Linked DNA regions of Homo sapiens: regions 2 and 3 are each linked to region 1. Evidence: fine-mapped expression QTL. A gene starts in region 1. Each other region holds a variant in brackets. All regions are shown on one strand. Distances are between the middles of the regions.

Evidence for each region. PIP is the estimated chance that this variant, and not a neighbour inherited with it, causes the effect.
Region 2: its variant is fine-mapped to the expression of ZAP70 in whole blood (TOPMed, PIP above 0.99).
Region 3: its variant is fine-mapped to the expression of ZAP70 in whole blood (TOPMed, PIP 0.98).

What each region holds. Positions count from the first base shown.
Region 1 is chr2:97,711,018-97,716,243 of GRCh38, forward strand. It overlaps ZAP70 (zeta chain of T cell receptor associated protein kinase 70), which reads left to right and starts at 2,559. Exons shown (of 14, transcript NM_001079.4): 1 at 2,559-2,657; 2 at 2,899-2,977. RefSeq lists a silencer at 204-393 and enhancers at 2,367-3,340, 4,572-5,087, 5,088-5,226.
Region 2 is chr2:97,742,858-97,748,083 of GRCh38, forward strand. It overlaps a transcript of ZAP70 not described here. Among named protein-coding and RNA genes, the nearest start is that of ZAP70, 32 kb to the left of the region's middle. RefSeq lists a silencer at 2,784-2,893. The variant C/G (reference allele first, on the strand shown) is at 2,359.
Region 3 is chr2:97,862,841-97,868,066 of GRCh38, forward strand. All of the region lies in intron 4 of TMEM131 (transmembrane protein 131), which reads right to left. Among named protein-coding and RNA genes, the nearest start is that of TMEM131, 130 kb to the right of the region's middle. The variant A/G (reference allele first, on the strand shown) is at 2,995.

The DNA.
Region 1 (5,226 bases):
ACCCCAACCCGATGAGGCAAAGGCACCGCAACTTTCCTAGCCCACATTTCCATCCGTTTGCCCTTTACTGTAAACATTCAAAAGATGCATCCACCTCCTTCCACTCTGGCAGAACAGAGGACCTTATCTGCATGCCAATCTCGGATTATCTGTAGCCCAATCTCAGAGCTGTCTGAGCACTGGGCTTTGTAGTTTCCAGACCAGCCTCTGGGACAGGAAGTGGGGGGCTCAAGGGTTGTAGGGCCAGTGCCTTGCAGAGGCTGGGAATCCCCTTCTCAGGACCTGAAGACCCTGGAAACTGGAAGCCCCCCACCCACACAGAGGCACCCTGTCCCATAGCTGGCTCAGCTTCCAGCTCCCTGGGGCGCTGGCCTCCTTCGGGGAGATATTTTACAACCAAAGTTTTCTTCTTTTATGTCCAGCAGCACGTGGGTGGGGTCAGGCTGCCTGGGCTGCAATCCCACCTGGCCACTTGGCATCTCTTAACCTCTCTGGGCTTTACTTACCTTATCTGGAAAATAGGTTGAATGGCTTATTAATTGTGATGTGCGTACAGCAATGTCTGGCACATAATCAGTGCGACTCTCATTATTGTAGTATGAATGTGATTTGATGCTGTAATTTCTCCTCTCTTCAGGGTGCCGGTGTCTTTTTCTCTCAATACTCCAAGAAATGAGCGTCCAGCATGGATGTGAAGGGATGCTTGCTGCACCTGGAGTTTCAAGATGCCGCTGGGGAAAAGGGAGGCTGCTAGCAAACACCATTTTGGAGGGGGCTGTATGAAGGAGAAAAGTAGCCTAGAGCCGGAACTCAGATTTTCTAAAGGGGATTCAGGCGGCCAGAGGATAGTAGAGGGCCAGAAAGGAGGTCCCCAAGGAGGCTTCGGGGTAGGGTGTGAGGGGATCCTCAGGCAGACTGGGGAGCTGAGCCTGTTGTAACCGAGCGAGTTACAGAGAAACGCCGCACTTTGAGACGAATTCAGGGGTCCTTTATTAGCTGGCGACTGAGAGACAGCTAGTGCTCAAAATTCTCTCAGCCCCAAAGAAGGGGCTTGATTTTCTTTTATACTTTGGTTTAGAAAGGACAGGTGGGGGTCTAAAACAATCTTACAGAAGTAAAGCAGGCAAAAAGTTAAAAGGATAAATGGTTACGGGAAAGCAAACAGTTCCAGGTGCAGGGGCTTAAAATCTATCACAAGGTGATAGACACGGGGCTTTGGGCGTTATCAACCGGACACAAACGCCGGGGCTCTGGGTGCTATTAACCGGGCGAATTCCTGGGAACTGCGGATATAGCTTGCCACAGTATCTTATCAGTTAATTGCATTCTTGGATGTGCTGGGAGTCAGCTTGCACAAATTAAGTCCTTGAGGAAGCGGGGTGGGTAAGGGGCTGCAAATGAAAGAGCCAAGATGGAGTCTGTCTGGCTCTCTTAGCTAAGGGAGAGTCAATTCAGGTTAAAACAAGGTAGGGTATCACAAGCCCACTTAACAAGGGCAGCAGGACCCCAAGAAGAAAAGCTTTAGGAGTCTCCACAGTGGGCCCAGGGCAGTTCCACACAGGTCTCTGAGGCCCCACAGACAGGAGAGCTGTGACGACTCCCTTAGTGCCCAAGAAAGCAAGGAGGTGGTGGGCAAGGGGCTCCCAGAGGCCTTGGGGCACTAGAGGGGAGATGGAGCCGAGGGAGTGGCTCTGCAGGCCCCTCTCTGAGAGAGTGCATGAGGTGTGGCCCCAGGCCCAAGGGTAGGGGGTGCACAGGGTGAGGGAAGGGAGGAGAGGAAGAGGAGGAGGAGGTGGTGGCCACAGCGGGATGGCACTCAGCCAGGTTCAGCTTCGTGGGAAAGGTCCCAGGTGGGCCGGGCTAGCACTGGGGATGCCCTGGCTCTGTGTCTCGGTTGGGTGGCTGACTCCTCCTGGAACGCATCCCTGACATCCTCCAGGCTGGCTTGGGGATACTCTGGGGACACACAGTGCCCAGGCTTCCGGCCTCCCAGCCCTGGCTCCCTGTGGACTCAGCTGCCCCCAACAAGCCTGCGAGCCACTGGAGAGCAAGGGCAGGCTGTCCTTGCCATCCAGATGCCTGGCACAGAAGGGGTTCTCACCTTCGGGGTATGGGCTGACTCAGTGGGTTTCTCCTCCCTCCAGCTCTAACCTGCCTGTGGAATAAACAAATCACTCCTCTGGGTTGTCTAGCTGGTGCAGGCCCCAGGGCGACGCCCCTTTGAGGGGAAAATGGGGGCATTCCAGTTTCCATGAGCCCTGGGACTCCCCTCCTTCCCACCACTGCTGCCTACCCTCCGGTTCCAGGTATGCAGGCTTCCTCCCTTCTGACGGTTCCTGCTGCTGGAGTCGTCCTTCCTGAAACCCTGCCTTTGCTTAGCCTCATTCCCATCTCTCAGTCCCATCCTGCAGCTGGGCAGGCAGTGCTGGGCCCCGGAAATGCCCTCTGCCTCCCTGGAGCACGTGGCCTGTGATTTTCCTTGAGCACAGCACTTTGTGACTTTGATGTAAACATCAAACACAGCCCCCTTTCCTGTCTTCGCATCCAGGAAATAGGTTAGTTTCAGACAAGCCTGCTTGCCGGAGCTCAGCAGACACCAGGCCTTCCGGGCAGGCCTGGCCCACCGTGGGCCTCAGAGCTGCTGCTGGGGCATTCAGGTAAGCGGCTGTCCTCGGGCCTTCTGCCTGTGTCCTGCCACCAGGGCCACCCCAGGGGGCTCTGGGAGACCTGGCAGAGGATGAACCCCCCCCATCCATGAGTGAGAAACCCTGGCGGGGTGTGACATCCTCCCCCGGGGTGTGTGCGGAGAGTGTGAGCGGCAGGGCCTCCCTCTCAGGCTGGGGGCTTGGGCTGCAGGGAAATCCAAACCGGCTTTGTAAGCCCCGATTCCTCACCCAGAACCGGCTCTCCATTGGCATTGGGACCAGAGACCCCGCAAGTGGCCTGTTTGCCTGGACATCCACCTGTACGTCCCCAGGTAAGTGGTGCCTGGGTGGAGTGGCACCTGGCCACCGTCTCCATGGTGGGCTGTGTCTGGAGGAGGAAGACAGAATATTAACTGGGAGTCAGGAGGTTGCTGGGAGGACCAGGAGAGCTGGAGGACTGGGCTGGGTGGTGACTGGCTGGAGATGGAGGCAGACGGGGCTTGTGGCCACGCTGAGGGAAGCAGCTCCCCCTCCAGAGGCTTGGCCGAGCGGGGCTGTTCAGGGGACACGGTGAGGCCTGCTCAGTCCCTGGGCTCCTGCTGGGCCCTGTTTGGCTGCATCCTTGGCTCTCGGAGGCAGAGAAACCTCCAGAGAAAGCGCATGTGCACTCTGTGAAGATGAGGGGGCTGCTCACCAGGGCCGTGAGCTCCATCAGCAGAATGCTGTGATTCCTGTGAGGAGTCCAGGGCAGGCTTGAGCCACTTGTAGGCGAGCTCAGGTTAGAGGAAGACCTGGAGAGAGAAAGAGCAAAACACCGAGTTCTCCTCAACTGCTGTGTGTTCTCGGCAAGTTGCTTGGCCTCTCTGACCTCAGTTTGTGCATCTGTTAAATGCACATGCAGATATGGGCACCTGGCAGGCGCCTGGTTCCTGACTGTTGGCGAGAGGCTGGGAAATGTGTCCCAGGTAGGAAGCATCCCCGACAGGAAGGAACAGGAGTTCATGAGGTGAGCAGCTCGAGATGATTCATTACTCTCGTCTTGGTTGGAACAGTAGGCAGACAGGAGGTGTTTAATAATGCCTTGCTGAGAGATCAGGGTCAGGGACTCCTAAGGTGCCACCTGTGAAGCTGCCTCCTGCTGAATCCAGAGCTTCCTTTTCCTCTTCACACCTGCCCTCCATCCTCAGCCCCACTGCCCTGGCAGTGTTGCGGGGGTGGTGTTGATGTGCACACTCTGGAGCCTGGGGGCCTGGCTTCACATTCTGGCTCTGCCACTCACCAGCTGTGTGACTGGACCAGTCACCGCATCTCTCTGTGCTTCCCTCCCAGGGCTCTCGGGAGGATAAAGAGAGTGACTGTATCCACACTGCCCGGCACATACAGGTGCTGCAGAAAGGTCTCACTAAAACCCTCATTATCCTCACTAGCTCTGGGTGGCCTCGGGCTCTGGACTCCACAGTTCCTGTATGCTCTCCGGGGCTGCAGCACCCAGACCACCCCGTGCTGACCACTCCCTGCCCCACCCCAAGGTACAGGGTTAAGGCAGCCATTCTCATCAGAGCCAATTTTACCTCCTCCCGTCTCCCTGGGACAGTTGATAGTGCCTGGAGACAGTTTGGGTTGTGACCCAGCGGGTGTTACTGGCATCCAGCATGTCCAGGACAGGAATCCTGTGAACAGCCTACAAGGCCCAGGACAGTCCCACCCTGTTCCATTGTCTCTATCAGCCCCTATCCTCCTGACTCACACCGCCTTTTCCCATCTCCCTTTTACAGTCACAGAGCCTGAGGCCCAGAGAGGGACCGCTGCTTGCTGAGGTCACACAGGCAGTGGAGGCCGGAGTTGGGGGCCTCACTGGAGGGGCGGTGGAAGGGCATTGTTCAATCAACAGACACTTGGAGAGTGTGCTGGGTTGGGGAATCTGACCCTGACCCCGCACCAGCCCAGCTCTCCAGGGTCTCCTAATAGACATTTGCTGGAGTGGTTAGTGCTGGCTGCTGCATTGGACAGACCTGAGTTCAAATCCTGGTGGCCCCTTGCAGGCTGCATGTTCTGAGAGTGACATTGACCTCTCCGAGCCTCAGTTTCTTTAGCTGAGGAGTGGGATAACAGTTCCCACCAAATGTAGTTGTGGTGAGAATTAGAATAAATGGCTAATGCTCGCAAAGGGTAGTGCAGTCCCCAGCACAGAGGCTGTTGTGATTGTCCTTACACACTTGACAAATATTTGTGGGGAGGAAGCAGGAGCTTCCATAGAAAACAAGACAGAGCCGTGGGCCCTGCCTCGGGGAGCTCAGCCTGGTGAGGGACTGAGGAGCAGAGACAGAGGCCATCAGGGCTGTGATGTGGGAGGATGGGGACCCTGGAAGCCTAGGGGAGGTGCCTGACCCAGGCTGGGGAGGGGGCAGGGCTCATGGAATGCTTCTGGGAGGATGGGACAACGGAGGAGGCCTGAAGCCGGAGGCCCAGTAGAAGGATGCAGCGCAGTTCTGGGCTGAGGGAATAGCCTGTGGCCAGGATCCTCAGGATGGGCCCCTCCTCTCCCGCCATCCTCCACCCAAGGAAGCCCCTGTGGCCCCTC
Region 2 (5,226 bases), 32 kb after region 1:
ATATGTAAGAGGCAACTCTATTGGCAGCTTTTCTGGGCTTCATTTAACAAACTCCTCTGTAGACATTAAGGTTCTGTTTAATTCATGTTCTAGAGGACAGAGGTTGTTAGCTCTCCATCTTGAGGCAAAACTCTTTGTCCCACCCTGCCCAATCAAGGCATGGAAGCCCTGTTTCTCATCTAGGAAGGGGCTGTGGTGTTCAGCTCAGCACCAACCTTATACTTCAGGGAGAGAAATGGGAAAGAAAAAAAGGGAGAAGAAAGCACATACATTCATCCTCCTCGGAACCAAACTCCTGAGTTAGGCCTTGGTTCTGGCTCCGTGGCTGCCACTAAAATCCCATGTGGCCTTGTTAAATCCCTCCCACCTCTGGCTCTCCACTTCCGCTTCTGTGGAGTTTTTATTCTAGCAATGAAACTTTTCACATATGAGCTCCTGGTTCTTTCTTATATCTGCCTGCTTTTGTCTCATAGTCTCCTGTTCTTTCTTTTCTTTGAGATAAAGTTTTGCTCTTGTTGCCCAGGCTGGAGTGCAATGGCGCGATCTTGGCTCACTGCAATCTCCACGTTCCGGGTTCAAGCGATTCTCCTGCCTCAGCCTCCTGAGTAGCTGGGACTACAGGCACCCGCCACCATGCCCAGCTAATTTTTGTATTTTTAGTAGAGATAGGGTTTCACCATATTGGTCAGGCTGGTCTTGAACTCCTGATCTCAGGTGATCCACCCGCCTCGGCCTCCCAAAGTGTTGAGATTACAGGCATGAGCCACTGCACCCGGCCTCCTGTTCTTGTTTATGGCTGTTATTCCCTTCTTTATCTCTTTGAGTTTTTAATATATTTATTGCAAAATTCTTTTAAGGTTGCACTATTATTCTCTATTTCCTCAGACGTAAATTCTTCCAGTTGGGGAGTTTGTGGAAATTTCATGAAGTGGTTGTGAATCCATTGTCTCTTCAGAATATTTCTTGCATGTGTATCTTGTAAGGGCTGTATATGAGAGCCTGTGCTCTTGGCTTCATACATTAGGGGGCCCTGCATTGGTACTAGCCTCCTAATGGGTAGGTGGTGGGGGGCTTCAACCCTTGTCTCTGGGCATCTCTGCAGTGGTCTCTTGTATACCTGGTATTTTCCTGTCATTGCTAAGTGTTTGAAGAATGGTTTCTATGTGTACTTGGTCTGCCATCTTGAATGAAAGTCCAATTTCACCATCTGTAAACATTTCACAGATGAGGCACCGGAAGTTCAGGGAGGTGGCCTGACTTGCCCCAGTCCACACAGCTAGGAGGGAGAATTTGAACCCAGCGAAACCCTATCCACTCCCCGCTCCTCGGCAGGCCCTGGCCCGGTGCTCCCCTCAGCTCTGACTCATTGCTAGCTCTGCATTCCCTGGACACCTTCTTCCTCAGAGAGCTGGGAGAATGGCCTCTACCCTGTAGACACGCTAAATAAACTCAAAATTTTGTTCTGGTGGACGAAGTGAAAAAAACCAAAACTGGCAGATTAGCTCGGTATAATATGACAAGGCCCTGGACTCTGCAGTCTGGCTGTGAGACCTCAGGGAGGTTACTTAACCTTGGGGAGCTTCAGTCTTCTCATTTGTCACATGGTGATAATAACTGTGTTTACCTTTCTGAGTAGTGATGTGAAGTGAAACAATGCATTAGTTTAGCACTTAGTAGCTGCTTATTAAATATTACTTCCTTCCATGGAGGAAAGCAAACTGGGGATGGGGCCAGGGGAATGTGATAGCTGATCCATCAAATTCCTGAAAGGTTTCATGGGCCAGAGGGAGGAGAGCTTCTCCATGGTCTGAAAAAGAGAACAGAGAATAACAGGGAAGGATCCAGGGAAGGTGACACAGCTGCAAAGTCTGTTCATTGGGGTAAAGAATAATCCCTTCAACAAATGGTACCAGGACAACTTGATTTCCACAAACAAAACAAACAAAAAGTCAGACCTCTATCTCACACATATAAAAAAACTAACTAAAATGGATCAATGACCTAAATATTAAATATAAGAGCCCAAACTGTAAAACTCTTAAGAAAACAAAGAGGTAAATATTTTTGGATTTCGCAGTGGATTCTCAGGTATAACACTCCAAGCACAAGCAATAAAAGAAAAATAGATAAACTGAACTTGATCAATATAAAAATCTTTTACTTTTTGTTTTTAATTTTTATTTGTTTTATTGTTTTTTTGAGACGGAGTCTCGCTCTGTCCCCCAGGCTGGACTGCAGTGGTGCAATCTCGGCTCACTACAATCTCTGCCTCCCGGGCTCAAGCAATCTTCCAGCCTCAGCCTCCTGAGTAGCTGGGATTGCAGGTGTCCATCACCATGACCAGCTAATTTTTGTCTT[C/G]TTAGTAGAGATGGGGTTTCACCATGTTGGCCAGGCTGGTCTCGAACTCCTGACCTCAGGTGATCCACCTGCCTTGGCCTCCCAAAGTGCTGGGATTACAGGCATGAGCCACTGTGCCTGGCCAAAAAACCTTTTAATTTTTAAATTAAAGGACATCATCAAAGGGTAGCCCAGAGAATGAGAAAAATGTTAGCAAATCATTTATCTGATAAGGATTTAGTGTTTAGAATGCATAAAGAATTCCTACAATCCAACAACAAAAAAATATCCAACTCAATTAACTGGGCAAAAGACTCGAACAGACATTTCTCCACAGATGCTATACAAATGGTTAACAAACACATGAAATGTGAACTTCATTAATCATAAGAGAAATGAAAATAAAAACCACAGTGACAAGCCACACCTCACACCTCCTAGGATGGCCGTGTGCACACACCGTAACTACGGCTGCTGAGGGTGTGGCGAAATTGGAACCCTCACACACTGTGGGTGGGGATGTGAGATGGTGCAGCCTCTGTGGAAAGCAGTTTGATGTTTCCCTACAAGGCTAAACATGGGCTGACCATCGACCCGGCAGTTCACTTTTAAGTATACACCCCAGTGAATTGAAAACAAGGTCTCAGATAATAGTAAACCAATGTTCACTGCAGCATCATTCACGATAGCCAAAAGGTTGAAACAACCCAAATGTCCATCAAATGATGAATGGATAAACAAAATGAGGTGTATACATTCCATGGAACATTATCCAGCTGATGGAACATTATCCAGCTGAAACAAGAGGGAAACTCTCTTGCCTGCTACAGCATGGAGGAAACTTGAAAATATGCTAGTGAAAGAAGCCAGACACAAAAGGACAAACATCGTATGGTTCCACTTACAGGAAATATCTAGAACAGGCAAATTCATAGAGACGGGAAGCAGATAGAAGTTACCAGGAGCTGGGGGGAGTAGGCAATGAGGAATCATGGATTCACGTTTACAGAGTTTCTGTTGGGAATGATGGAAAAGTTCGGAAATAGATAGGGGTGATGGTTGCACAACACTGTGAATGTAATTGACACTGAATTGTGCACCTAGAAAGTTAAAATGACAAATATTATTAAATATGTTTTACTACAATTTTAAAAATAGCTTAAAAAAACCCACCACCGCCACAAAATATACAGTTACTCTCTGTAAGTCCAGTGAGGATTAAAATACAATGGAAGGTCTCTTGCTCAAGCACAACCAACGTTGTCTATGCCACAATTTATAGACCTGTGTTTTTAAGTTTTGGCTTCAGCAAGGAGGTGAGCAGAACTTTCAGAGGAGGTTAAGGGCTTGGCAGATTTTGCTGGTGACACACCCGGACAGGAGTGGCCTTGATCTTGGTTTTCCCAGCCTCCAGAGCTGGGAGCAATACATTTCTGTTGTTGATGAATTACCCAGTCTAAGGCATTTTGTTGACAGCAGCACACACAGACTAAGACACAAGAGCACCAGCAACAAAAGAAAACAATGGAGAAGGTGGACTTCATGACATTGAAACTCTTTGTACAAGAAAAGTGTATCAAGAAATTGAAAAGAGAACTCACAGAATGGGCCTAGTACTTGCAAATCATATATTGGGGAAGAATCTAACATCCAACTTATATAAAGACCTTTGTATAAATCAACAATAAAAAGACAGTCTAAGTAAAAAATGGACAAAGGATTTGAACAAACATTTCTTTAAGACATACCATTGACTCATTAATGAGCACATGAAAAGATTCTCAACATTATTAATCATTAGGGAAATGCAAATGAGATAGCACTTCCAAAAGAAAAAAAAAGGTAAAGGAAAAATGGGCAAAAACAACTGTGGGAGTGGATGTGGAGAAGTCAGATCACTCGTGCATTGCTGGTGGGGATGTTACAAAGTGCAGCTGCTTTGTAAAACAGTTTGGCAGTTCTTTAAAAATTTAAACATAGATTAACCATCTGACCCAGGAATTCCACTCCTGGGTAATACTCAAGAGAATGGAAAACGTATGTTCACACAAAAACTGGTACATGAATGCATTGTGTATACAGTGGCATTATTCATAACAGCCAAAAAGTGGAAGTAACTCGAATGTCCATCAACAGATGAGTAGATAAATGTGTGGTATATACATACACGGAAGCCTTATTCAGCCATAAGAAGGAATGAAGTACTGATACATATGCCACAGCAGCCACTGACCTCAAAGACTTTACCGAGGTGACAGGATCCAGACACAAAAAGCCACATATTGTGTGATTCTATTTATATGAAGTGTTAAGCATGGGCAAATCCAGAGAGACAGAAGGTAGATAGTGGTTGCCAGGGGCTAGGGGAAGGACAGTGGGTAGTGACTGCTCATGGGCATGGAAGTTGTTTTTGGAGGTGGGGGAGGTGGCAGTGTTGATGAAATGTTCTGGAATGAGAGAGTGGTGATGGTTGCCCATCACTGTTAATACACTAAAAAGCAGTGAGCTTTATACTCTAAAATGGTTAAAGTGCATTTTGTTTGATGTGAATTTTATCTCAGTGTGAAAAAATCCTGCTGTCAGAAGAGTGTCTATTGGACCTGGCCTGTACTGGCACGAGGTTTTTTTTTTTTTTTTTTTTTTTTTTTTTTTTTGCTATTGGTGACTGGCCGAGCCATCTGTTGTGAAGATGGCTGCTTTGTAGTGTGGAAGGCTGTGGGCAGGACATGTCTGCCAACTCTAATGCAGACACTTCCCAGGAACTAATGACTATTAGTCTTTGTAATGCATCTTGAAGCCAAGTGTCTAGATTTTAAAACCCCAGTGTGGGAAACACTGACGGTGAAATTTCCCAAGTAACGGGTGGCCTGTACCTAATCCACAAGGATA
Region 3 (5,226 bases), 150 kb after region 1:
CTTCCCAAATCTGGAGAAAGATATTAATATTGAACTACAAGATGGTCATAGAACACCAAGCAGATTTAACTCAAAGACTACCTCAAGGCATTTAATAATCAAACTTTAAAAAATCAAGGATAAAGAAAGGATCCTAAAATTAACAAGAGAAAAGAAACAGAATTAGGTACAATGGAGCTCCAATACCTGGCAGCAAACTTTTCAGTAGAAATCTTACAGGCCAGGAGAGACTGGCATGACATACTTAAAGTGCTGAAGGCAACAACAACAAAAAAAACCCCCACACTTTTACCCTAGAATAGTATATCTGGCAAAAATATCCTTTCCAGCGAAAATATCCTTCAAATATGAAAGAGGAATAAAGACGTTCCCAGACAAACAAAAGCTGAGGGATTTCACTAACATCAGATATATCTTACAAGAAATGCTAATGGGAGTTCTTTCAAACTGAAAGAAAGGGACATTAGTTAGCATCTCTCCAGGACGTTGGAGTGGGCACAGATTTCTTGAGTAATACTCCGCAAGCACCAGTAACCAAAGCAAAAATGGACAAATGGGATCATATCAACTTAAAAAGCTTCTGCACAGCAAAGGAAACAATCAACAAAGTTAAGAGACAGCTCACAGAATGGGAGGAAATATTTGCAAACTACCTATTTGACAAGGGATTAATAATAACTAGAATATATGAGGAACTCAAATGACTCTAAAGGAAAAAATCTAATAACCTGGTTAAAACATGGGCAAAGTATCTGAATAGGTATTTCTCAAAAGAAGACATACAAATGACAAAGAGGTATATAAAAAATGCTCAATATGACTATCAGGGAAGTGCAAATCAAAACCACAATGAGATATCTGATTCCAATTAAAATGGCTTTATCCAAAAGGCAACAACAAATACTGGCAAGGATATGGAGAAAAGGGAATGTTGGTGGGAATGTATTAGTACAAACACTAGGAACAACAGTTTGGAGGTTCCTCAAAAAACTAGAAGTAGAGCTACCATACAATCCAGCAATCCCAGTCATGAGTATACACCCAAAATAAAGGAAATCAGTATATTGTAGCGTTTTATGTACTCCCATGTTTATTACAGCACTATTCACAATAGCCGAGATTTGGAAGCCACCTAAGTGTTTATTACCAGATGAATGGATAAAAAAAATGTGGTACATATACACGATGGAGTACTATTCAACCATGAAAAATAATGAGATCCTGTCATTTGCAACAACCTGGATGGAGCTAGAGAACATTATGTTAAGTAAAATAAGCCAGACCCAGAAAGACAAACTTTCCATGTTCTCACTATTTGTGGGAGCTAAAAATCAAAACAATTGAACTCATGGAGATAGAGAGTAGGAGGATGGTTACCAGAGGCTGGGAAGGATAGCAGCGGGGATGGGTAGAAATGGGGATGATTAATACGTATAAAGAAACTGAAAGTATGGATAAGACCTAGCATTTCCTAGCACAACACGGTGACTACAGTTAAAAAAAAAATTAACTGTACCTTTTAAATAACTACAATAATATAAATGGATTGTTGGTAACACAAAAGATAAATGACTGAGGTGATGACTATCCCATTTACCTTGATGTGATTTTTATGCATTGCATACCTGTATCAAAATATCTTAGGTAATCCATAAATATATATATCTACTATGTACCCACAAAAATTTAAAATAATTTTAAAAAAAAGCAACAAATTAATCAGGGGCTAATTTAGGTTCCTTAAAGATAGTGATTTAGTACATGCTGGCTCTTCCTGCCATCTTCCTTCCCCACAACAATAATGCTGAAAAAATTTAGAAGTTAGAGGGAGGTACTGACTCCAAGAAATAACCAAAAAACAGTGAGAAGCCCTTGGGAGAACTGAAGGCTGCCTTAAAGTGGCAGGCAAAGGAAAGTGAGTGTCAATGGGCAGCCTGAGCTGACAACGAGAGGCTAGGCTATGAGAAGGCTTCCGAACTTTATTATTCTCCACTTTCTTCCCTGTCTGCCTTGAGATAGAGCCAGATCCTTCAACCTAGAATAGAAAAGCTTGCCAGGGTAAGGAGTTGATGAGCAGCTGCCCTTGAAATGCTCTCCTCTAACATCTCTCTCTGGTCCTCCACAGTCCTAGGGCTACTGAACTATGATTTAGGAAGACACCTTTGTCCCACGATGCTTCTGCCTAAGCATTGTCAGTTAAGAGTGGTGACAAATATGGGGCAATCAATAGTTTTTATGTGTATGTATGGAACTGGGGCTCTCCATTTTGGGGATTATCTCTCCTTTTAAATTCACAAGAAGAGACAAAGACCAGGGCTTGGCCTTCTGCCCTTCTCAATACGCATTACCAGACAGTAGCTCATAAGTTCACACACCCAAGTAACATGATATGTTTGGAGTAAATTAATTGGATAACACACACAATGTTGTGATAGATTGTAATGTGGTCTATTGCCATGGTCAAACTTGGAACAGAATGTTGAAGAGAAGTGACAGGAATAGATCTCCTTGTGTTGTTCTTGATGTAGGGGGAATTTTTTCATTCTTTCACCATTAAGTACGATGTCAGCCTTCAGGTTATCATAGATGCTCTTTATTAGGTTGAAGAAAATCCCGTCTATCCTAGTTTGTTAGGCATTATTATCATGAAAGGATGTTATTATCTCAAATGTTTTTTCTGTGTTTATTGACTTGATTATTGGTTTTCCCTGTATTGATTTTTTCAATGTTAAACCAACCCTGCATTCTTGAGATAAATGTCACTTGGTCATGGTGTACACTAGATTCTTTTTATAATCTATTAGCATTTTGTGGAGGATTTTTGCGTCTATATTCAGCAGAAGTATTTGTCTATATTTTCTTGTAGTGTCTTTGTCTGGTTTTGGTATTAGGGTAATACAGATCTAACAGACTAAGCTGGGAATTGTTTCCCTTTCTATTGTTTGGAAGAGTTTGGGAATAATTGGTATTAATTCTTCTTTGATTGTTTCATAG[A/G]ATCCTTAAGTAAAGCTATGTGGAGCAGGGCTTGCTTTCTGGCAAGTTTTTGTTTTGTTTTGTTTTGAGATGGAGTCTCGCTCTGTCACCCAGGCTGGAATGAAGTGGCACGATCTCGGCTCACTGCAAGCTCCGCCTCCTGGGTTCACGCCATTCTCCTGCCTCAGCCTCCCGAGTAGCTGGGACTACAGGTGCCCACTAACACGCCTGGCTAATTTTTGTTGTATCTTTAGTAGACGTGGGGTTTCACCGTTAGCCAGGATGGTCTCGATCTCCTGACCTCGTGATCCGCCTGCCTCGCCTCCCAAAGTGCAGGGATTACAGGCGTGAGCCGCCGTGCCCAGCCACTTTCTGGCAAGTTTTTAAATGACTAATGCAAACATTTCACTTGTTATAAGTCTATTCAGATTTTCTATTTCTCCGTGAGTCAGTTTGTGTATTTTGGGTCTTTCCGGAAATCTGTCCATTTCAACTAAGTTAATGAATTAGCATACAGTTGTTCATAAAATTGCCCTGTAATCTTCTTTCTATAAAGTTGACAGTAATGTCACCTCCTACATTCCTGATTTTAGTAATTTGAGTCTTTTCTGTTTATTCCCTGGTCAGTATAGCTAAAGGTTTGACAATTCGATCTTTTCAAAGAACCAACTTTTGGTTTTGTTGATTTTGTTATGTTTTTCTATTCTGTATTTTATTTATTTCCTCTAGTTTTTATTATTTCTGTTTGCTTTAGTTGGCTCTTTTGCTAGTTTTTTTAGGGAGAAGGTTAAGTTTCTGATTTGAGATATTTTGGTGTGTATATGTTTCCTTCCCAGCAATGTTTTTGCTGCATCCCGTAAGTTTTGATATGTTTTGTTTTTGTTCATCTCGAAGTATTTTCTAATTTCCCTTTTGATTTATTCGATTCACTGATTATTAAGGAGTATGTTTATTATCCCAAGACTTTTTTGATTTCCAATTTATTTCAGTAGAAAATTAAGACAGAGAACATACTTTGTACAGGACGAGTATCCCTCTTACCTGAAATGCTTGGAACCATGAGTGTTTTGAATTTCAGATTTTTTCAGATTTTGAAATATCTGCATTACACTTATCAGTTAAGCAACCCTAATCTGAGAATCTGCAATTCTTCAATAAGCATTTCCTTTGAGCATCATGTTGGCACACAAAAAAATTCAGATTTTGGAGCATTTTGGATTTTCAGATTAGGAATGTTCAGCCTGTATTGTTTAAATCCATTTAAAATTACTAGTGTTTGTATTATGGATTAGCATATGGTCTATCTTGGAGAACATTCTACATATGCCTGAGCTGAATAAGTATTCTGTTGTTGAGCATGGTGTTCTACAGATGTCTACAAGTCAAGTTGGTTTATACTTTTTCCAAGTCTTCTATATCTTTATCTTCTGCCTAGATGGTATAGCCATTATTGAAAATGGGGATACTGAAGACTGTCATTATTACTGTCGCATTGTGTATTTCTCCCTTCAGTTCTGGCAGTTTTGCTTCATATATTTTGGGTGAGTCTCTGTTATTAGTTATATATATATATGTTTATAATTGTTATATCTCCCTGGATTGACCCTTTTGTAATCATAAAATGTCCATCTTTATTTGTAGTAACTTTTTGGTTTTAAAGTCTGTGTTGTCTGATATGCTTTTCCCCTAGTGATGCCCTGCTGTACAAGTAGTGGTCACTGGGGAAGGGGTGGTAGACCCTGGTCTTCTCAGCTTGCTCTTCCTAGTGTGGAACTTATCCTACTAGTGAGGTGAGCAAGATTGGGTTCCCCAGGTTTCAGGCCTGCTGCATCTGGGATACAGCATCTGTCCTAGAGTGGGGTGGGTGAAGAGAGACCCAGTCCTTTCTGAAATGTGCCTGAAATAGAACTTCTGCAACATAAAGTTGGAGATGATGAGAAATGCTAGCAGCCCTCCCTTCTCAGGGTGAAACTGCAGTCCCAGAGTATAAACTGGGGTTAGAGGGAGCTTCTATAACAAGGAGCTGGGGCTTGAGGGGTATGTGGTGGGGAGCATAATAGAATAGGTTGTAGCCCAAATGCCAGAGACTGCCACTGTTCTTATGAAGATTTACAACATTTTTTTGAATGAATAATTTCCTGCAACTTTAATAACTTTTTAAAAAATAATTCTCATTAGTTAAAGTACTGTCTGTTGAGGTGGTCCATTGAGCTCCTTACTCCATTCTTAAAATCCCATGCCCTAAGGGTATAT